Linked DNA regions of Homo sapiens. The protein of the gene in region 5 purifies or fractionates together with the protein of the main gene of each other region. This does not show direct contact. Each region holds a gene or a part of one and is shown on either strand. Other genes may lie near its edges. The genes, in order: ITGA4, SPIN1, SUSD1, CACNA2D2, DEFB107A and LEPR.

The links.
Region 1: the proteins of DEFB107A (region 5) and ITGA4 purify together in Homo sapiens (affinity purification with mass spectrometry, with the first as the bait; one large-scale study listed by BioGRID). This does not show direct contact.
Region 2: the proteins of DEFB107A (region 5) and SPIN1 purify together in Homo sapiens (affinity purification with mass spectrometry, with the first as the bait; one large-scale study listed by BioGRID). This does not show direct contact.
Region 3: the proteins of DEFB107A (region 5) and SUSD1 purify together in Homo sapiens (affinity purification with mass spectrometry, with the first as the bait; one large-scale study listed by BioGRID). This does not show direct contact.
Region 4: the proteins of DEFB107A (region 5) and CACNA2D2 purify together in Homo sapiens (affinity purification with mass spectrometry, with the first as the bait; one large-scale study listed by BioGRID). This does not show direct contact.
Region 6: the proteins of DEFB107A (region 5) and LEPR purify together in Homo sapiens (affinity purification with mass spectrometry, with the first as the bait; one large-scale study listed by BioGRID). This does not show direct contact.

What each region holds. Positions count from the first base shown.
Region 1 is NC_000002.12:181,474,386-181,477,885, reverse strand, and holds part of ITGA4 (integrin alpha-4 isoform 1 preproprotein), read right to left. Parts: intron 2,927-3,500; coding exon 2,820-2,926; intron 2,728-2,819; coding exon 2,598-2,727; intron 2,067-2,597; coding exon of another isoform or gene 2,035-2,066; exon of another isoform or gene 1,666-2,034; intron 1-1,665. UniProt on the Homo sapiens protein: Integrins alpha-4/beta-1 (VLA-4) and alpha-4/beta-7 are receptors for fibronectin. They recognize one or more domains within the alternatively spliced CS-1 and CS-5 regions of fibronectin. They are also receptors for VCAM1.
Region 2 is NC_000009.12:88,394,944-88,398,443, forward strand, and holds part of SPIN1 (spindlin-1), read left to right. Parts: intron 1-3,500. UniProt on the Homo sapiens protein: Chromatin reader that specifically recognizes and binds histone H3 both trimethylated at 'Lys-4' and 'Lys-9' (H3K4me3K9me3) and is involved in piRNA-mediated retrotransposon silencing during spermatogenesis.
Region 3 is NC_000009.12:112,137,298-112,140,797, reverse strand, and holds part of SUSD1 (sushi domain-containing protein 1 isoform 2 precursor), read left to right. Parts: intron 1-3,500.
Region 4 is NC_000003.12:50,497,135-50,500,634, forward strand, and holds part of CACNA2D2 (voltage-dependent calcium channel subunit alpha-2/delta-2 isoform b precursor), read right to left. Parts: intron 1-3,500. UniProt on the Homo sapiens protein: The alpha-2/delta subunit of voltage-dependent calcium channels regulates calcium current density and activation/inactivation kinetics of the calcium channel.
Region 5 is NC_000008.11:7,812,917-7,816,970, reverse strand, and holds the start of DEFB107A (beta-defensin 107 precursor), read left to right. Parts: upstream 1-1,254; 5' UTR 1,255-1,342; coding exon 1,343-1,412; intron 1,413-4,054. UniProt on the Homo sapiens protein: Has antibacterial activity.
Region 6 is NC_000001.11:65,598,668-65,602,167, reverse strand, and holds part of LEPR (leptin receptor isoform 1 precursor), read right to left. Parts: coding exon 3,364-3,500; intron 777-3,363; coding exon 486-776; intron 326-485; coding exon 208-325; intron 1-207. UniProt on the Homo sapiens protein: Receptor for hormone LEP/leptin. On ligand binding, mediates LEP central and peripheral effects through the activation of different signaling pathways such as JAK2/STAT3 and MAPK cascade/FOS.

The DNA.
Region 1 (3,500 bases), on a different chromosome or scaffold from region 5:
GATCTCTTTATGTGGTACTGATTTCATTTCCTTTGGATATATACCCAGAAGAGGGATTGCTGGACCATATGGTAGTTTTATTTTTAATTTGAGTAACTTCTCTACTGTTTTCTATAATGGCTGTACCAATTTACATTCCAGCCAACAGTGTGCAAGGGTTCCCTTTTCTTCACACCTTCGCCAACACTTGTTATCTCTTGCCTTTTTGATAATGACAATTCTAATAGGTGTGAAGTGATATTTCATAGTGGTTTGTAATTTGCATTTCCTTGATGATTGGTGATGTTAAGCACCTTTTCATCTACTTATTGGCCATTTTGATGCCTTCTTTGGAAAGAAAGCCATTTGGTCTCTTGACTAATTTTTAATCAGTTATTTGGTTTTTTGCTATCGAGTTGGTGAGATCCTTATACATTTTAAATATATAGGACTTATGCGAATATTATTTCCCATTCTGCAGACTGTCTCTTCACTCTGTTGATTATCTCCCTTGCTATGCAGGAGCTTTCTAATATAGTCTCATTTGTTTATTTTTGCTTTTGTTGTTTGAGCTTTTGGTGTAATTTCCAAAAACTCATTGCCTAGACTAATGTCAAGTAGCTTTTCTCTTATGTTTTCCACTAGAAATTTTATGGTTTCAGGTATCGTGTTTAAGTCTTTAATCCATTTTAGTTGACTTTGGTATATTTGCTAAGATAAGCGTTCAATTTCATTCTTTTGCACGCAGATAGCCAATTTTCCCAAAGGCATTTAAAAAAAAACTTTCAGGTTCAGGGTTCATGTGCAAGTTTGTTGCATAGATAAATTGCGTGTTGTAGGGGTTTGATGTACAGATTATTTCCCCATGCAGGTAATAGGCATAGTACCTGATAGGTAGTTTTTCAATCCTCTCTCTGCTCCCACCGTCTACCACCAGGTAGGCCCTAGTGTTTGTGCCTACTTTGTGTCCCTTGTGTCCATATGTACTCAATGTTTAGCTCCCACTTATAAGTGAGAACATGTGGTATTTGGTTTTCTGTTCCTGTGTTAGTTCGCTTAGGTTATTGGCCTCCAGCTCCATATAAGTTGCTGCAAAGGACATAATCTCGTTATTTTTTATGCCTGTGTAGTATTCTACAGTGTGTATGTATCACAGTTTCTTTATCCAATCCAACATTGATGTGCATTTAGGTTGATTCCATGTCTTTGCTATTGCTAACACCATTAATTGAAGAGAGTGTCCTTTCTTAGATTTTGCCCAACTGAAATATAGACTGAATCAAGATCTGCATGGACATAAAGGTCTATTATTACAAAGTCCCATGAATGAATGCTTTTGGAACTTTCTAAGGGGGCAAAGCTTTGCTTCTTCCAAAAAATGATATAAGTAAACTTCTATGAAAATAAGAATTGGAACCACAGCTTCCTTTTGGCTTTGCTAAGCAGAAAACTTCAATAAATTGGTAAGTCATTTATAATGACCATTTCTGGTCAGGAGTTTTCATCCCTTTAAAAAAATATATCTTACCTGATCCTGTATTTTACAATTGTAGATGGGTTAGGTTTATGGCATCTTGAGATTTTTGTAGTATGTGGCTATGTATATCCGAGAAAAACTAAAAACTCTACTATGAAAATATTTTAAAGATAAACCGAAAACTATTAGGAAAAAGAAGACAGCAAACATACAGAAATCAAGACTGAGTTTTATTGCAACTGAGAATCAATATTCACTTTTTTATCTTTTGGGTATCCGAAGGCAAAATAGGAATATATGTAATATAAGCTGCTCTGTGACATCACATTCCAAGGAAGAAAGACCAAAGTCTTATTAGCACCCATAATTGAACTCAAATACTTGGCCAAAGTTTTGCCAACCAATAAAATTTTTCTTTGCGTGCTGAGGGATTTTTTTTGAGTGAGGGTGGTTAGAAAATTATGAATTTGCATTCATATGTTTCTTAGCTCCTAAAGACGCATTGTTGGATTTTAGTTTTGCTGCAGATATCCTCTGACATGCTCTGTTGACATTCACCCCAATTCTGCTCACTTCTGTTATGTCCTAGCTCTGTACTTGCTGATGCTACCTATAGCATAGAGTTACCATGAGAAAAATGTTTCAAACTCAAGACACGAATCTCTTGCTGCTTGAAGGAAAACATGTAAATTAGAAAAAGAGATAGTGAGTGCGAATGAAAGATTTGCTTACACTGATTATTCTTCCCAATTACTCCTGGAAGCTAAAGGTAAAAAAGGAAACCTAAAGTCTTTCTTTTTAATCAGACTTCCAATATAATTTCACAATTTAAATGTCCTATATTTGCTGGGTACTAGTCTCACCTATACCAAATTGAAAGTAAATTTGATGCAAAAGTGGGTAGTTAAAGAGCTAGATTTCAGAGTTATTCAAATTGTAGAATTTTTATAGCACAAAGTGCATTTATGAAAAATAATGCTATTGCAATTGGGTAAAGAAAGAAATTGAGTAGTTAAAAAGAACATAATTACTTAGAAGATCTCCCTCTCCTCTGAACATCTAAACTTGAACATAAATTTAAAACACTAAAAGGTATTCACTTACTTATCTTTATCTAATTCGTATCAAAATCATGCCTTACCTTGATAACACGGAGCTATTCTTTTACTCAGTTCTGTTCGTAAATCAGGGGGCACTCCATAGCAACCACCAGTGGGGAGCTTATTTTCATTCTTTATGTAAAATATATTTTTCCATCTATGCCCACAAGTCTGAATAAAATAAAAGTAGACCAAATGATGTGAAAGCTGCACCCAGGATAGCTGATTTCACGATGGATCTGTGGACCAGTTCCAATACCTACCACGATGGATCCATTTTCTCCTGGCTGTCTGGAAAGTGTGACCCCCAACCACTGATTGTCTCTCTCTTCCAAACAAGTCTTTCCACAAGGTTCTCCATTAGGGCTACCTATAGCATGTGAAAATAATTTTATCAGTTGTATTGAAAACATTCTACAAAAGAAGAGAAAACTGTGCACTCATCCCCAGTATTTTTCTGTTAACTACTTCTCTATCTTATATTCAGTGCACAATGTGAGGATAAATGTGAATTACTCTGTGCCAACTAATTATTCTCTAATACAAGGTGACTTTGGTTGTAGAAATGACCTCTGACTGGTAGCACCATAAAAAGATAGACTCAATCATATAAGAGATAGCTAACAGGACTAGGAGTGGGGAAAACCACTTAAAGCTAATACCAGGTTGTGCAACTATAACTGCTGTGTCTAACGTTTGGAAAAGAATTAGCCATTTATCTAACAACGTAAGCAATATTATCAGAGCACTTTTAAAAATGTTTCTTCTACTGAGATATTAAGAATAGAAAGACTATAATACATCCTCAGCAATTAAGGTACAATTTATTGGAGCTGGAAGGTGATGATTAAGCATGCAGAAAGTGGAACATACAATTAGCATACCAATAATGCCTTGCGTTTATAAGAAACTGCCCTATGTTTACATTTATTGGAATATGACTC
Region 2 (3,500 bases), on a different chromosome or scaffold from region 5:
GGACTACAGGTGCCCGCCACCACGCCCGGCTAATTTTTGTATTTTTAGTAGAGACGGGGTTTCACTATGTTAGCCAAGATGGTCTCGATCTCCTGACCTCGTGATCTGTCCGCCTCGGCCTGCCAAAGTGCTGGGATTACAGGCGTGAGCCACCGCGCCTGGCCTATTTAATGTATTTTTTAACATGTAGAACATTTATGTGAACATTTATGTAGTTAAAAAATCTGATCTGTGTTAAAAAGTTATGTTCACAGCTTCACTTTAATTCTGTTCCTCCACGAATTTCTCTCTTGCCCCAGTTGTTTTTGCTTTGTTTTTCTGATATTTCATTTTTGCAAATGTAAGCATATGTGTATATTTTTGTTTCCCTTTCCTACACAATAGGCAGCGTTCTATGCACACTGCTCTGCCGTTCTATGCACACTGCTCCCTTTTACTTAATTTATTCTGGAGAGCGCTTCATTGAAGTGCGTGCTTGCAACTCATCTCCTAATGATGAACATTTGGGTTGTTTATATTCTCTTGGCTGTTATAAATATTGCGGCAATGAATAACCTTGTGGGTATATTGTTTTTTATTTGTGCAGATACAGCTTTAAGATAGATGTGGGGTGAAAGGTAAACACATTTGTAGTTTTGTTAGTGTCAAAATGTTACATTTTCTTTTTAAAACTTTTTAATTTTTTGTAGAGATGAGGTCTCACAGTGTTGCCCAGGATGATCTTGAACTCCTGACCCCAAGCAGTTCTTTTACCTGGGCTTCCCAAAAAACTTGGGATTACAGGCGTCAGGCATCAATACAGCCTAAAAAAATTACATTTTCAGGCTCAGTGTGATGGCTCACACCTGTAATCCCAGCACTTTGGGAGGCTGAGGTGGGCCGATCATGAGGTCAGGAGTTCAAGAACAGCCTGACCAACGTGGTGAAACCCCATCTCTGCTAAAAATACAAAAATTAGCCTGGCGTGGTGGCGCGTGCCTGTAATCCCAGCTACTCGGGAGGCTGAGGCAAGAGAATCACTTGAACCTGGGAGGCAGAGACTGCAGTGAGCTGAGATTGCGCCACTGCACTCCAGCCTGGGTGACAGAGGGAGACTCCGTCTCAAAAACAACAGCAACAACAACAAAAAAACCCGTCTCTACTAAGAATACAAAAATTGGCCAGGCATGGTGGCCTGCGCCTGTAATCCCAGCTACTCCTCATGAGAGTCACTTGAACTTGGGAGGTGGAGGTTGCAGTGAGCTGAGATCGCGCCATTGCACTTCAGCCTGGGTGACAGAGTGAGACTCCATCTCAAAAAAAAAAAAATTACATTTTTAAAAGGCAGATCTGACCATGTCAGCTTTTTACTTAAAACTCTAAATGGTGGCCAGGTGGGTGCGGTGGCTCACACCTGTACTGTACTCCCAGCACTTTGGGAGGCTGAGGTGGGCGGATTACCTGAAGCTGGGAGTTTGAGGCCAGCCTGGCCAACATGGTGAAACCCCGTCTCTACTAAAAATACAAAAATTAGCCAGGTGTGGTGGCGCATGCCTGTAATCCCAGCTACTCAGGAGGCTGAGGCAGGAGAATTGCTTGAACCTGGGAGGCGGAGGCTGCAGTGAGCTGAGATCACACCCCTGCACTCCAGACTGGGCAACAGAGTGAGACTCCGTCTCAGAAAACAAAACAGAAAAACTCTAAATGGCTTTCCAGTGCCTTAAGGACAAAAGTTTATAATGTAGCCTCAAGGGTACACATATAGTTGGTGTACATATAGCTTTACATCCCTTAACAATGGGATACATTCAGAGAACCTCGTTGTGTACCTCATAGAGTATACTTACACAAACCTATATGGGACAACCTACTAGGCACCTAGGCTATGTAATATGGCTTAATGCTCCTAGGCTACAAACCTGTACAGCATATGACTGAACTGAATACTGTAGACTATTGGAACACAGTGCTGTGTAGGTATTTATTTATCTAAACATATCTAAGGACAGAGAAAGTACAGTAGAAATGTGGTATAAAAGAGAAATGGCATGCCTGTGTAGGGCACTGAACCATGAATGGAGCTGTCAGGACTGGAAGTTGCTCTGGGTTGAGTCTGTGAGTGAGTGGTGAGTGAATGTGAAGGCCTAGAACATTACTGTACACTACCGTAGACTGTATGTAAACACTACAGTTAGGCTACACTAAATTTATAAAAAGTTTCTTCAGTAATTTACCTTAGCTTACTGTAATTTTTTTAACTTAATAAGCTTTTTAACTTTTTTTTAAACTTTCTGTCTTTTTAAATAACACGTAGCTTAAAACAGCCTCATAATATGGATCCACTGTAGTATATGTGGTCTGTTGTGTTGACAGAAATGTCATTAGGTGGTGCATGACTAATTACTTTTGGGCCTCAGCCTCATCTTGTACTGTTTTTCCCCTTGCTTTCCTTTGCTCCAGTTGTGTGGGGCCTCCTTCATTCTCCTGTGCTCACCATATTCTCCACCAGGAATCTTGGCACTTGTTCTTTTCCTCTGCCTGGAATGCCTTTCTTTGTTAACAGTTATTCCTGGTCTTTAGAGTTTGGCTCAAGCATCACTTTTAATGAAATTTTCTGTGTGCGTGCTTGCACATTTTCATAAGATAAAGAGATTGGACTGTACTGATATTCATCACCGACTCCAACAAGCATCAGTTGTCTGAAGTGTTTTTTTTTTTTTCCCCAGTCTTGCTCTGTCTCCCAGGCTGGAGTGCAGTGGTGCGGTCTCAGCTCACTGCAGTCTCCACTTCCCAGGTTCTAGCAATTCTCACTCCTCAGTCTCCCAAGTAGCTGGGAGTACAGGTGCGTGCCACCATGCCTGGCTAATTTTTTTGTATTTTTAGTAGAGACAGGGTTTCACCTTGTTGGCCAGACTGGTCGCCATCTCCTGACCTCAAGTGATCTGCCCTCCTCTGCCTCCCAAAGTGCTGAGATTACAGGTGTGAGCCACCGTGCCCAGCCTGAAGTTGTTTTTTTGAGACGAGGTCTCACTCCAGTTGCCTAGGCTGTAGTGCAGTGGCACAGTTTTGGCTCATTGCAGCCTCGACCTTCCCGGACTCAGGTGATCTTCCCATCTCAGCCTCCCGCGTAGCTGAGACTACAGGCATGTGCCACCATGCCTGGCTAGTTTATTTTTGTATTTTTAGTAGAGACGGGATTTTGCCTTGTTGCCCAGGCTGGTCTCGAGCTCCTGAACTCAAGCAGTGTACCTGCCTCAGCCTCCCAAAGTGCTGCCTCAGCCTCCCACCTGTGCCACTGCACTACAGGCATGAGTCACCGTGCCTGGCTGTCTGAAGTTCTTGAATTTTTTTGACTTTTCTGCAGTCAAGTCCTCTTGGTGCTTATCAGAATTACAATGTTATATTAGTTTATGTGATTTAATTAATTTTAGTTTTCCCACAAAGGCTGAGTTTCATGAAAGCAGAACCATTCCTGTTTTTGCCTGTAATTACTTTTCTGGTATCTAGCTCAGTGTCTGAAT
Region 3 (3,500 bases), on a different chromosome or scaffold from region 5:
GACTTCACACAATGAAGGAATTGCCTAATGATGCATTTCTCAAAATGTATGCAGATTGTTAAATGATGCATGACTGTAATTTGTTTAAGGTCACACAACTAGAGACAGAGCTGAACTTGAACCCAGGAATTCTAGTTTCAGAATTATTTTCAGCCACTTTGTTTTGCTGCTTCTGCTTTTATGGTGACACTGGCTTTTGGTTAGTTTTTTAAAAATTTTGGCTTTCTGTTTCTTTTTCCTTTTCCTTTTTCCTTTCTTTTCTTTTCTTTTTTCTTTTTTTTTTTGAGACAGAGTCTTGCTCTGCCACCCAGACTCGAGTGCACTGGTGCTCCTGGGCTCAAGCCATCCTCCCACCTCAGCCTCCTGAGTAACTGGACTACAGGCACGAACTACCATGCCTGGACAATTTTTGTATTTTTTTTTTTTTTGGAGACGGAGTCTCGCTCTGTCGCCCAGGCCGGACTGCGGACTGCAGTGGCGCAATCTCGGCTCACGGCAAGCTCCGCTTCCCGGGTTCACGCCATTCTCCTGCCTCAGCCTCCCCAGTAGCTGGGACTACAGGCGCCCGCCACCGCGCCCGGCTAATTTTTTGTATTTTTGGTAGAGACGGGGTTTCACCTTGTTAGCCAGGATGGTCTCGATCTCCTGACCTCATGATCCACCCGCCTCGGCCTCCCAAAGTGCTGGGATTACAGGCGTGAGCCACCGCGCCCGGCCCCAATTTTTGTATTTTTTATAGAGATGGGGTTTCGCCATGTTGCCCAGGCTGGTCTTGAACTCCTGGGTTCAAGTGATCTGCCTGTCTCTGCCTCCCACAGTGCTGGGATTCCAGGCATGAGCCACCACACTTGACCTGGTTTTCTGTTTCTCTGTCTACAAATATTATCATTTTATGTGCCTGTTTCCATCTGAAAAGTGAAAAAAAATTTTTTTAATTACCATTTTTCTAGTTTTTGGCTATATGTCCATAATCTAAAGGAAACATCAATCTATTCCCACTGTTTAGGAATTTCTTTTTTTTTTAATTGGAAATAAGTTATTTTTATCATGTCTTTTAGGCAGGTGATTATATATTTTTTTTCTTCTTTTAAATAACGATGTGGCCAGATGCAGTGGCTCATGTCTGTAATTCCAGCACTCTGGGAGGCCCAGGCAGGCAGATAGCTTGAGCCCAGGAGTTCAAGACCAGCCTGGGAGTGGTGGTGCATGCCTATAGTCCCAGCTACTTGGGAGGCTGAGGTGGGAGGACCACTTGAGCCTGTGAGGTTGAGGCTGCAGTGAGCCATGATCACACCCTGCCCTCCAGCCTGGGTGACAGAGCAAGATCCTATCTCATAAAGAAAAAATAATAATAATAATGTGTGGGTTATATTGTTAGATTTCCTGATAATGATCAGTACTAATTGCTGGAATGAATTAATCTGGGTTTTTGGTGTTTTATTCCTTTCATTTGGATTATATTTGCTAAATTTTACTTATAAATCTTGCATTGATATTCATAAGTGAAATTGCTCTATTTTCTTTTCCTGTGCCATCTTTGTTCAGTTCGGTATTAATGTTATTCTGAATTTTAAAAAAAAGAATGTAAAAATTTCCTTCTTTCTCTATTTCTGGAATACTACAAATAGAATTTTTAAAGATTTGGGAGATTTCACCTATAAAACCATCTGGATGTGGCACTATTGGAGAGGTAGCCCTTGGACTATTTGGACTACTTTTAAATTCTTCCTATACTTGCTGGTATATCTAATCATGTCCATTCTTTTTCTTTCCCTCTTAAGATCAATTTTGGTAAATTATGTATTTCTAGAAAATCATTTACTTCATCCAGATTTTCCAATTTATTTGTGCATGCAAAGAAGTGTAAAGCCTTCTAATTTGCTGTGGTTATATTTGTTTATAACTATTTATTGTAGTGAAATATTAGAAACAATCTCAAATGTCTAACAACAAGAGATTGGTTAAGTGAATCAATCCCTTAAAATGGAATATTATGTATCCAATAAAATTATGTTAGAAAAACAATATTTAAAAAAGAATATTTATTGCAGGCCAGGCACAGTGGCTCACACCTGTAATCTCAGCACTTTGGGAGGCCAAGGCAGGCTGATCACGAGGTCAGGAGTTCGAGACCAGCCTAGCCAGCATGGTGAAACCCTATCTCTACTAAAAATACAACAAATTACCTGGGCGTGGTGGCGTGCACCTGTAATCCCAGCTACTCAGGAGTCTGAGGCAGGAGAATTGGGAGGTGGAGGTTGCTGTGAGCTGAGATTGTGCCACTGCACTCCAACCTGGGTGACACAGCAAGACTCCGTCTCAAAAAAAAAAAAAGAATATTTATTGACATAGATAAGTACTAATAGTATGTTTCAGAGTTACAAATTCTATGAATAATAATCTTAATTTTGAAAAAGTTCCTATATACAGATAAGCTTAGAAAAATGTTTAGAATGCCATACATCAAAATGTTAATGGTGATAGTTTCCAATGGGAGGGTTTGGGATCCTGGACTTCATATATATATATATGTATATACACATATATATATATATATATACACATTTTTTTTTTGAGATGGAGTCTCACTGTGTTGCCCAGGCTGGAGTGCAGTGGCACAATCTAGCTCACTGCAACCTCTGCCTCCTGGGTTCAAGCCATTCTCCCTGCATCAGCCTCCCACGTAGCTGGGATTACAGGTGTCTGCCACCATGCCCAGCTAATTTTTTGTATTTTTAGTAGAGATGGGGTTTCGCCATGTTGGCCAGGCTGGTCTCAAACTCCTGACCTCAGGTGATCCGCCCACCTTGGCCTCCCAAAGTTCTGGGATTACAGGCATGAGCCACCGCACCCAGCCAATTTTTATATTTTATATACTTTCTGTATTGAAAGAAATTTTTTTAATGGAATGCTTAATGCATTTGCATGTCATACTTGCACAGGGATCATGCTAGTCTCTGTATCGTTCCAATTTTAGTATACATGCTGCCAAAGTGAGCATGATGGAATTTTTCACATATCAGACAAAGAAACCTGTTTTCATTTTGGAGAAAAGAGAAACCCTCACAATTTTCATTGAATTTATTGCATAATTAAGAAACCCCAGTGATGTGCATGGCTAAGTTAATCATTTTGATATTCTGACTTGCTGTGTAGGCTCTACACGCATTTTGATCATTAATTATCATCCTCAGGGGTTAAGAATTTCTAAAGATAACATTTTAGTTCTAAGATGATCTTTCAATGGATCAACTAAAATGCAGAACTTAGATTAAAATGTGCCATAGTGCCTATCAAAGAACGCTCTAAGGATTTACATAGGAAACCCCATATAAAACCATTTAGATTGCCTTGAAAATTAGCCATCATCTGGATTATTAGACTGAGAATGTAGAAAATTAATTTAGAGGAGAGTGCTTGCTGCATTTTCCCAAAGAACTGTTATTTAAAAGATCTTCGCTTCTTTTTTCCTTCTCTAATAACTGCTCCCTCTGCCCGCT
Region 4 (3,500 bases), on a different chromosome or scaffold from region 5:
GCACCCTCACACTGGAAGAGACAAGGCCCAGCGGCCACAGCTAAAGCAGGGCGTGGAGAGGAGCAGGAAGACCCCAGATCTGTCTTCTTAGGGCATTGGAATGTCAGAGTTGGAAGGATCCTGGAAGAAAGGAAACTGAGGCCCAGGGGGAGGAGGGGTTTTGTCCAAGGTCACCAAGCAAGCTACCCAACTGAGAAGATTAGGCTGGGCTTGCCCTTGACAGAGGCCTCCTCACCTAAGATGGGGGCTTTCAGAACTCCTTTGTGAATATTCTCCCCACCTAATCCCAGCTAGACAGTCTCCTGGTTTGTGAGGCTCTCCCCTCACCAGGCTCAGTCACGGGTAACAGTGATGGCTGGGGACCCAGCAGGTCCAGACCAGATGCAGAAGGAAAAGCACTGTGAGGGCCCAGGTGAGAGGAGCGGGACCAGGACCGGGGACACCAAGCCAACAGCCTGAGTCTCACAGTGGCAGGGCAGGGCTTGGCTGAGTCTGCCCCTTAGGTCCTGACCTTATGTAGATTTGAATGACAGAATCTTGACTCCTTTAGGGAGGCCCCAAGAGACCCCTGTGGGGACCTGCAAGCCAGCAGGGCCATCTCAATCTCTGTGGTCACCTGCACTGGCCCCCCTTCTGCCCTTAGCCACAGGCAGCTCTGGAAGCTCTTCAGGTTCCACAGGACAAGAGAAGAAGGGAAGCAAAAAAAAGCAAAAACCACACACACACTTCCCTTGGGGAATACGAATATTGATTCTGTAGCTTCTTGTTTAGACAGTAGGCACCAGAAGAAGAAGAAAAGAAAAAAAAACCTGACATGAAGAGAATCTTCCCAGTTGGCTGGAGGGCTGTAGCCAGCAATGGGAAAGCCCCTCATGTCCTCCCCAGCATGTCCTCCCCAGGCCTGAGGCCCACAGCCCAGTCACTTAAAGACACAAGGCACCAGGTCTGGAGGCAAATCTCCGCACGGGAGTGGGGTAGGTGGCTGGAAGGGGGAAGAGAGAGAAAGACCACTCCTATCTTACAGGCAACATCGCCCTGCCAGACAGAGCTCAGCCCACCTGCCTTGACTCCCAAACCTCCAGCTGCCCCTTGGAGAGTTCCCTAGCAACAAGCCCTTGAACGCTGGTTCCCAAACCCCCCAAGTCCCACCCATCCGGATGGCATGAGGCTCCCCCAGCATCTATAAGATCCTAGCCCTGTGAAGTCCCCTCAGACCTGGCAAAACTGCCAAGGGACTAAAGGAGCCAGCCTCAGGTTTCCATGAACAACCCCCAGCCCCACCCCCACCTCCATGACCTTTCTCTCCGGAATCAGACTGGAATCTGGAGAAGGAAATGGCATCTCATCTCCAGATGAAGCCCCTCCTCTCCTCCACCCCTCCACACAGAGCAGGCCTGGCCCATAACTCAAAGCTGGGGGAAGGAAAGCTCTGGGCTGGGGGTGCTCCATGATGGCCTGTGTATACGTGGGAGGTAGATGGAGGTCAGCACTGGGGCTATAAGCACTGGGGCTGGCAAGGCAGCTTCATGCCAAGGAAGGCCCCTCAGGGTTGCCTGAGACCCAGAGGAGGAAAGAGAGACAGACAGGGCAAAGTTACAGCTGGAAGTCCCAGGCCCAGCTCTCATATCCTAGGCCTCTTCATTTTCTTCCCAGAGATTCAGGCTTCAAGCCCCCCTCCACTTCCTGGGCCCACTGCCCAGATGTCCCCAGCCCTCTGGCTGGGCAGCCAAGTGTCTGACAGATCTATCCTTTCCCCTGCCCTGCCTCTCATGGTTGTGGGCTTTAAGCAGGTCCCTTCATTTTTCTGAGGTCAGTCTCCCCATCTGGAGGATGGACATGACCACGGGCTCTGAGGTCAAGGCACTAATGTGGGTGAGGGGTCTGGCCTGGGCTCAGTAAGGGAGATCACCATTAGCCTGGAGACGTCCCCCACCACAGTCAAGCTGTGTTGCAGGGAGTGAGGGAGGGAGGTGGCCCAATGTCTTCCTCAAGGAGGTAGAATCTGATGTGGGTGGGCACAGCCTGAGAGAGTGGCACAGCCCAGAGCTGGGATGGGAAGGCCTCTGGAAGGTTCGGGTGTGAGACCTTGAAGGAGGGGATCTAAACCTGAGAAAAGAGCACAGTCATGGCAGGGCAGCATGAGCAAAGTAGAGAGACAGGCGGCCACCTAGCCCGTGGGAGCCCTGGAGACTGGTGGGTCTCGCAGTAAGACTGGCTACCGCCCGGCTGCAACATCTGGGCTTAATGCTAATGTTAACAGTGGCAGCCATGGCACCTGACGGAGCCCTCCCTGCCCACTAGAGGCGGCATCCTCTCCCGTTAATTCTCACCACCAGCCTCTTAAGCAGATTCTATCATTTCAATTGTGGAAACTAAGGCAAGGTCATCCCAATGGAGCCTGCAAAGTCTACACCTGACACCCAGCATGTCCCCAAACTACATCCTCCCAGGAGCTGGCAGTGTCCACCCATACACATCTGAGATGCCAGGAGCTGGCAGTGCCCACCTGCACACAGGCAGGAGGAGAAGGGGATACTTTCTGCAGAAGTCCACTTAGAGGCCAGCTTTACTCTGGAGTCAGTCTCTCCATGGGGACATGAGTGTGACAAAGAATCTGGAGTGAGATTCACCTGCAGACTACGAGGGGACTCATCCTAAAATGAGTTTCCTCCTTTCTCAGGGGTTAACCTGGCACAGCTGACCAAAAGGAGGTGCCTGATAAAGATGGAGTCCAGGGGAACAGCAGCCAAGGGTCCCCCCAAAGTCCTCCACACCAGGAGGGCTGTGAGCACCTGGCAGCTCTGCATCTCGGTGACAGCAGCAGCGGCTGGGAAGCCTCATCCCTCCCTCCTGCAAAAGCTGAGGCAGGTTTTTGGGAAGATGGGGGACCCAGATGAGTGATGCTGCCTCCCTCCAACAGGGAGAGCCACAGGGAGATGGAGACAGGGGCTGGAAGGCCCAGACAGACACACGTCACCCACCATTAACCGTAGCTACACTGACGCATGCCCTGTTGTAGGCACTGCTCCCCATGTGTCCACTCAGGAGAGGAGCACGTACTCTGGTTGTCATTAATCTGCTGGTGGTCCAAACCCCTCAGGCCCCTCACTGCTTCTGCCCACCCTCAGAGGAAGGGAGACGCTGGCCAACACCATCGCTGGAGCAGAGCTGGGCTAAGAGGGTGCAGTCAGGTGGGCCAGCTCAGCCGGGTGCTCCACCCAGCACTCAGCCAGGACTCCACAGAGGAGGGGACAGAGAAACCTGGGGGCACTGGAGAACAGGGCACAGAGGCCCAGCAGAGAGGACAAAAGAGGCGGGCAGGGAAGGATAGGTACAGCTCGATGAAAGACCTGAAGAAGGGGGACAGGGGAAGAGGGAGGGAAAGACACAAGGGGAGGCAAAGCAGTGAGGGCTGCCCCTCAGCCGGCGGTGGTGGCCTGATGCTGGGGAGGGCATAACTGGAAAAAGGAGGCAGGTGAAAGGTGTGCTCGGACTCAGGT
Region 5 (4,054 bases):
CACTTACTTTCTTTAAGACATACAGAAATACTTATATTTTCTGCTAATTCTTGTGCCAATTTTGGTAAGTTAAATTTTTGAGAGAATTCTTTTATTTTATGTAAGTTGTGAAATGTTTTGGCATATACCTGTTGACAACATTTTTATATTAGTTTAATGTTTCTTGGATCTGTAGTGATAACTTCTTTTTCACTTATTCTGCATACTTGGGCTTACATTGTTCCCTTTTCTAAGGTTCTTAGAGCATAATTTTAAGTCATAGATTTAAACATTTCTTCTTTTCTACAATAAGTATTTGGATACAAATTTCTTTCGAAGTCATTGTTTTGTTGTGCTCCACAAAATTCGATATACAGAAATGCTTTCCAATTATTCTCATTATTTATTCTTTGATACAAACACAATCTAGAATGATGTTGCTTTATCTCCACATATTTGAAAATATCCTAAATAGCTTATTTTATAGATTGCCAATTTAATCCCCTTGTGGTGAGAAATACACTCTGAAGTATTTAAATGTGCTTAAACACATCAATATTTGTTTTATGGCCTAGCATATGGTTCATTTTTATGAATGTATCATATGTACTTGAAAAAAATGTGTATTTTGCAGTTGTCTTATGATGTGTTCTATAAATATCAATGCAGTCAGTGGAATGGTGGTATTGTTCAGATCATGCATGACTTTGCTAATTTTTCCCTGTGTTCTATCAGTTGCTGAGAGAGTGGTGTAAAAATTTTCTACTATGAATATAGAAGTGTCTATTTCTCCCTTTAATTAAATCAAATAATATAAAAACATGTTAATGGTTTTTATGTATTTTCAATGGATTAACCCTTTTCTCCTTAAGCAACAGCACTCCATGCAATACAGCGAGACCCTGTCAAAAAAAAAAAAAAAAAAAACCTGCACACGTACTCCTGAATTTAAAATTAAAGGTTTTTGTGTGTTTGTTTTAATTATTATTTTAAGAATAGGTTTTATGTAAAATCATGTACTAGGAAAAGCGTGGTGGCTATATATCTTATAGACATGGTAATACTTGAGATAAGACTTGAAGGAAAAATGAGAGAAGTCTAAGCAGAGACACAGAATAGAATATTCCAGGCAGAAAGGCAGGGTTCTCTGCGTTTGTCTCCCACAAATGTGGTTTAGTTAAAATCTGATCCATCAGCCCACACATTAATCAGTGGAGCATGGAAAATAGTATGTTCCCAATGAACATTACAAACCGAGGATGACTTCCAGTCCCTTCAGGGCAGTAGAACATATTTTAATCAATGCCCCTTGATAAAAGAGCTTGATTCCAGCTACTGCACTTCCTTCATCAGCTCTCCACTGATGCCTGGAGCCATGAAAATATTTGTCTTTATTTTGGCTGCTCTCATTCTTCTTGCTCAAATTTTCCAAGGTAAGAGGGAAATTCTTCTAGAAGTAGAGATGACAGTCTGCTCAGGATCTGTCTTTTGAGATGAAAGCTCAACTTTTACAAAGTTGAAGGTTCCAAGGCAAACCAGTCACTGAAAATCTTTTCCTGAGCTCCGACACAAAACAATGGGACCACATTGACCGGGACCATCTCCATCCATAATAGTTTCTAGTCAACTTCCCTAACAGCTCTGCCAAGGAATTCAGACATCTTTGTACTTTTAGATCTCTTTCCTCCTTTGTAATCTGCAACGCAGGTTCAGCATATTCTTTTTTTTTTTTTTTTTTTTTTTTGAGACGGAGTCTCGCGCTGTCGCCCAGGCTGGAGTGCAGTGGTGCGATCTCGGCTCACTGCAAGCTCTGCCTCCCAGGTTCATGCCATTCTCCTGCCTCAGCCTCCCGAGTAGCTGGGACTACACGCACCCGCCACCACGCCTGGGTAATTTTTTTGTATTTTTAGTAGAGACGGGGTTTCACTGTGTTAGCCAGGATGGTCTTGATGTCCTGACTTCGTGATCCGCCCTCCTCGGCCTCCCAGAGCCCTGGGATTACAGGCATGAGCCACCGCGCCTGGCCAGCATATTCTAAAGTGATTTCTTTAAAATGAAAAAAAAAAAAAAAAAGAAAGAAAAGATTATCCAAGGAAATGCCAAACATATTTGTTAAGTTAGGGAAGTACAGCCTTTGTAGTCTAAATTAAACTAAAGTTATGTTACTAGATTCTTAGACAGCTAATTTTTTTTCATGTCTGAGTCGTCGGTCCAAATCTCTTATCCATACATTATTTTAGACTTTTTGGCTTTCACACACTGGTTGGAAATTATGCCATTAAAACCACTAAACTAACATCTTGCTTACTATTCTCTTAAGTCTTTGCGTCTTTGAGATTCTCTTTGCTTCATACAACCACGACTCTGTTCCTAAGAAATGTTTATGTCCATACCTCCTCAACTATCCTTCGTTCCTTCTGTTGTGAAGCTTTTCCTATTAGAGGTTCTCCATGCATCATGAAGCCCCCTGTCTGTTCCTTCATGGCTCCTGAATTTCTACATTCCTTTATTACACATTCTGTCCTCAGTAGTCCTAGAAAACCAATAGATATTGAATGTGTGCTAACCACTTGTAAGAAATTGTTCTGTCCACTATGATAAAGGTAGGTAAAACGAAGAGGTAAAAATATAAAGCATGGACATTGACCTTAATTTGCTTGAAGTTATTAGTCTATTCCTTCTGTGTTGTTCGAAAATAGGTTGCTTGTAGTGGTAAATAAGCTTTCAATACATTTAACATGTATAAGTAAGTATCAATGAGACAGGAAAATTCACAAATAACTTTAATATGAAACAGTTTTCACAAGTGCCATAAAAGATGCAAATTATAAAGAGAAGTCATAGATGTGGAAACTTGGTTCTAACTAGGAAATGCAGAAAGGCTTCCTGGGAAGTAGTATTTGTTTTGCACATTTGGAAATAGGCAAGACTAGAACTAAAGAACAGAGCCAGGGAACAATGTCCCCATGAAAGTTTCAGTGACTCCATGAAAGTGTCAGTTGTAAAATCAGTTCCCGATTTTCTGCCCTCAGCATCTTTTTGCAGATGTCAGACAATGCTCCAGAATAGATAAACTCATTTAAAATTGTCTTCTCCATCCACTTTAATCAGTACTCCAATTTATTCAGATCAGTCTATAGATGTGGATGCCTAATAGCTCCCTGTCCACAAAACTCATCTCAGATGTATTTGAATTACAATAATAAGCATAGTTTGGGCACAAATTAGAACCACCACCATCACCATAATCACATAGAATCTCAGAGTTAGAAGTGAATTTAATGATCAATATAAAAGGTAATAAACATAGGTTATTAGGCCAAACTTATATGAGTTTGGATCTCAGTGCTAATCTTTATAAGCTGTATGCACCCTGTGTTTTACTTTCCATTCTATAAATGATAATAATAATAGCATTGTTTTGAAGATGAATAAACTTGTTATATTAATTAGAAACTAACTTGTTATAATAAAGAATCTTAATGATAGAATGACTGAAGAAAGACAAAACCTTATTTCTCTTTCATGTAAAAGTCCAAAAATAGCTAAGTTGACTAGGTGCGGGTAGAGGGTTCTTTTTCACCAAGTTATGTTGTGATTTGGGCTGAAGGTCAACCCTGCCATCCTAAACAGTTGACCATTTTATTTGGTTCCAAGGATATTCTAACAGGCAGGGTTAGAAAGTATAGAACCTGATTAAGATTACATAGAAGCAGCTCACATCATTCCACTCCTTTTTCATTTTTCCAAATTTGTTCATGTGGACATATAGAAATAGGAAGCTAGGAGCTGATGTGAATAGCTAAGTATTCATGTGTCCAGCTAAACCCAGAGGTTCTATGACTAAAAGTCTGAAGGTAAAAATGACTGCTTTGGGACAGTTTAACAATCTCTCTGTATAACTGCTTGAGCAGTGGCAGGCACATACTCTATGCTATGTTAGAGTTTACCATTGTTGGTCATTTGTTCTTCTACTTATTTTTTTGTTCTCTGCCCTGATTCAGTATTGAACACCCTATACATGTATATATATATATATGTGTGTGTGTGTGTGTGTATGTGTGTGCGTGTGTGT
Region 6 (3,500 bases), on a different chromosome or scaffold from region 5:
ACAAATTACAATTTTTTAATCTCAGGTGTGAATATTTTTCAAGAATCACCAATTTATATAATCCCTCAAAAATTTCCTGATTCATTATATTATACTTTCCTCTTTCAGGAAGCAAATAATCTGTAAGACTACTGTTGTAATATTTCTAAAGAAAATTTTTATCTCACTGTGCCCACAGAAAAACAAAACAGCAAAAATAATACGTACCTATGATACCTCAATTGCAAAGTGCTTTCCGCAAGTGACTGGATTGTACTGGTTGACCATCTGCAAGTCATTTTAGTTAAGTACCCATCAGTTTCACATGAGATATTGATATTGACATCTATTTGAAACATATTAAAATATTAATATAAAGCAAAAACTCCAAAAAATTCAATGAAAAAAATTTTTTCTTACATCTTTAACAGGACTCTAATATAAGGAGGGTCCATAATGAAAATTCAAGTTGTGGAACAAAATGAACAAAACCTCTGTTTTCTTACCAATCACATATAATTCAGCATAGCGATGATGGCATTCATGTTCATTGCAGCAGTACACTGCATCATAGGTAAACTTTCCTCGAGGTTTGGTTTCATTCAGATTGAAAAAAGTAACTTTGCTAACATGATCACTCACAACATCATACTGGCTTTGAGGAATTTTCTCAGCTAAATTCATCCACCAAACAATCTCTTTTGAGGGAACAATCTTGTTTTCCTTCTTATAGATGCAGTGAAAAGAAACATTAGACCCAACACTTGTCAGAATTTTAGGTGGAAAGTATATGACATCTGTAATGAGGGAAGAAAGGATATCAGATGAAGACAAAACATTCTGTAAGTAATTTGTACCACATCGAAAAATATTCACAACACATTCCAGAGTTACACTGCCAAAAATAAAATGAGTGTAATTTAAAAACTGGATAATGCTGAAATTACCTGTTTGTGTACAGTTATCTAGTGTCCCGAGTGCTCTCATTCTAAAGTGAGTTGAGCTTCCATGAATGTCTTTACTATCTTCTAAACACAGAGGCTTATTCATCATAAAATATGTTTTAGCCAGTAATTGTCACTTGCTAACTGATAGGCAGGAAAGTGACTAAAACAAAATATAGCTTAATTCAACAATGACATATTTTCCAACAGACCCTGCTTTGGGAATCAGTGAAACTAGGACAAGTTCTTAAAGCAAATCACTATGAAGCCAAATCCTGAAGTAAAAATGATTGCCGCTATTGTCTTGTTTGGATACATAAAAATTTCAAGTAAGTAGGTAAAGATACGAGATATAAATTAAAAAATAGGAATGTCGTATGAATGATAATGCAGCAATATACAAAGCAGAGAAAATGGGAAATACTGGTTTGTACTATCATTTTGAGTTATTTAATGCCAATATCCTATGGATGAGGGTAAAGGGAAGCGATATTTTCCTAAAACATGATTTTTTTAATGCCTACACATGATTCTATACTATTTTTAAAGTCCTCTGTTGTTGTAAATTTCATTTGCCTATCATTTTCAAAGACATGCGAGATACAAGTAAATGATGGTTTACATAGGAAGAAATTATTTCCACCACAGTGCACTGCAAAAACGTCAGTACATTTCAGTTGTAAAGTTAAGGTAAACCATTTTCTGTTGATAGACTATGAAAATTTGTTTTCACACATATCTTGGGATTACCCTTAAAAACAGAAACAAAAATACTTTAATTGGTTTTTATTAAGTTTTCTTTATTCTGTAATAGCATGGTAAACGTCAATGTCTATATATTTACAATTCATACAAAACATTTGTGTTTTGTATGTCCATAATCAAATAGAAACAGGAAAAAACTTAGTAGCATAAAATTACTGCACAGGAGCCAGACCATTAGATTTATGAGCGTGACTGAGTATAATCCTAGCCGAGGTGGCACTCAAGCTTCACTTGTACATTACTTACTGTGGACAAGTACCTAGTACATTAACCTATCTTAACCTACCTTCAGTATGCGCCACAACCTCCTTACTCAACTGCCTCAAAAGTCTCAGAATAATTCTTATTTAAAAATAAAAAATATAATTGAGTTTTCATGGATTAAGCTGAAGTTTTTCATTTTAAAGATGACAAGAAAATTCAAAGCATTTCACTTTGAAATCAAATACATATAGTAAGGCTTAACTGAGAAATAAGATTAAAGTCATAGTATTTTTACATGATTAGATGCTAAAATATTAGCTTAAAATAAGAAAACTAAGTTAATAAAAACCTGACAATTTGTGAAATTTACACTGGATAAATTTATTGAAATTGATATGAGATATTGAATATTTAATTTGCAAAATTTTAATAATATAGATACACATTTTATCTGCATATGACATACTATGCAATTTTTAATTTGCAGAATAAGAAAACAATAATGGTTTTCTTCACATGACCAATGTTAATTATTTCATTTCATTATTTAATTTTATATGGATATTTCATATCCATGTAAAACATCCCTATTTTACAGATAAGGAAATTAAGGCATAGAAAGGTTAAGAAACTTTCCAAATAAGTGGTGGAGCCAGAACTCCTATAAACTTCTGTTGGACTCCGAAGTCAATGTCTTAAACTACTATTGCTACTTGCCTTTTGACGAATCAATGCTTTTAAAATAGTAAGCAATCAACAAGTAAACTTGTTAAATGGATTGATATTTGCATGGTACCTGTTATCTCTGTACAGGCCATAATCAATCTCAGTAAGTCTGAACAAGAAAAATTTTGCCCTTTTGACAGATCGGACAACCAGCCAAAGGACTATTGTCTTTCTATAGTCCCAACTTTGCATGCAACAGGTCTAGGACCATTCCAAGCCTCTGGAGCCTCTATGCAAAACTTTGCGCATCAGCTGCATGAAGAAGCTGTGAATGAACTGTAGATGTTCCGATGCTAAAAATAACCTTTAAAATATGAACATTGGCACTGAAAACTCTCAAAAGCAAGCATCTGGAGTAAAAATAATTCATTTATTATATAATATAAAGTAAAATGTTAATATTTGAATTTTATGTCAAATAAATATGCTTGGTTTTAAAATGTAAATTAAGGAATTATCAATACAAATGGCTTTCTGAGTTTGTTAATTTGGAGCTGTTATATTAATTTTTTCTTTTTAATAGGAAAAGTGATCCTACAATATACTGCAATAGAAACACACAAGCCTAGAGGCTCTGACAGAATTTTAATTCACAAATTGGCCTGTTCAAAGTTTAAACAAGGAAGTTGATACTGTGTTCCTCCTTTCATTTTAAGGCCTCAAAATGTAAGATGCTTATACTATACAAAGGCAAGTTCAGGAAATATATTTCCCTCCCAGTAGAAGTGGCTATTACATAACCTACCTTGTGTGGTAAAGACACGAGGAGTACTCCAGTCACTCCAGATTCCTGGGCCATCCAGTCTCTTGCCCCTCACCTGAACCTCATACGAAGACCCAGGAAGTATACTGTCTACTAGCAGGGATGTAGCTGAGACAATC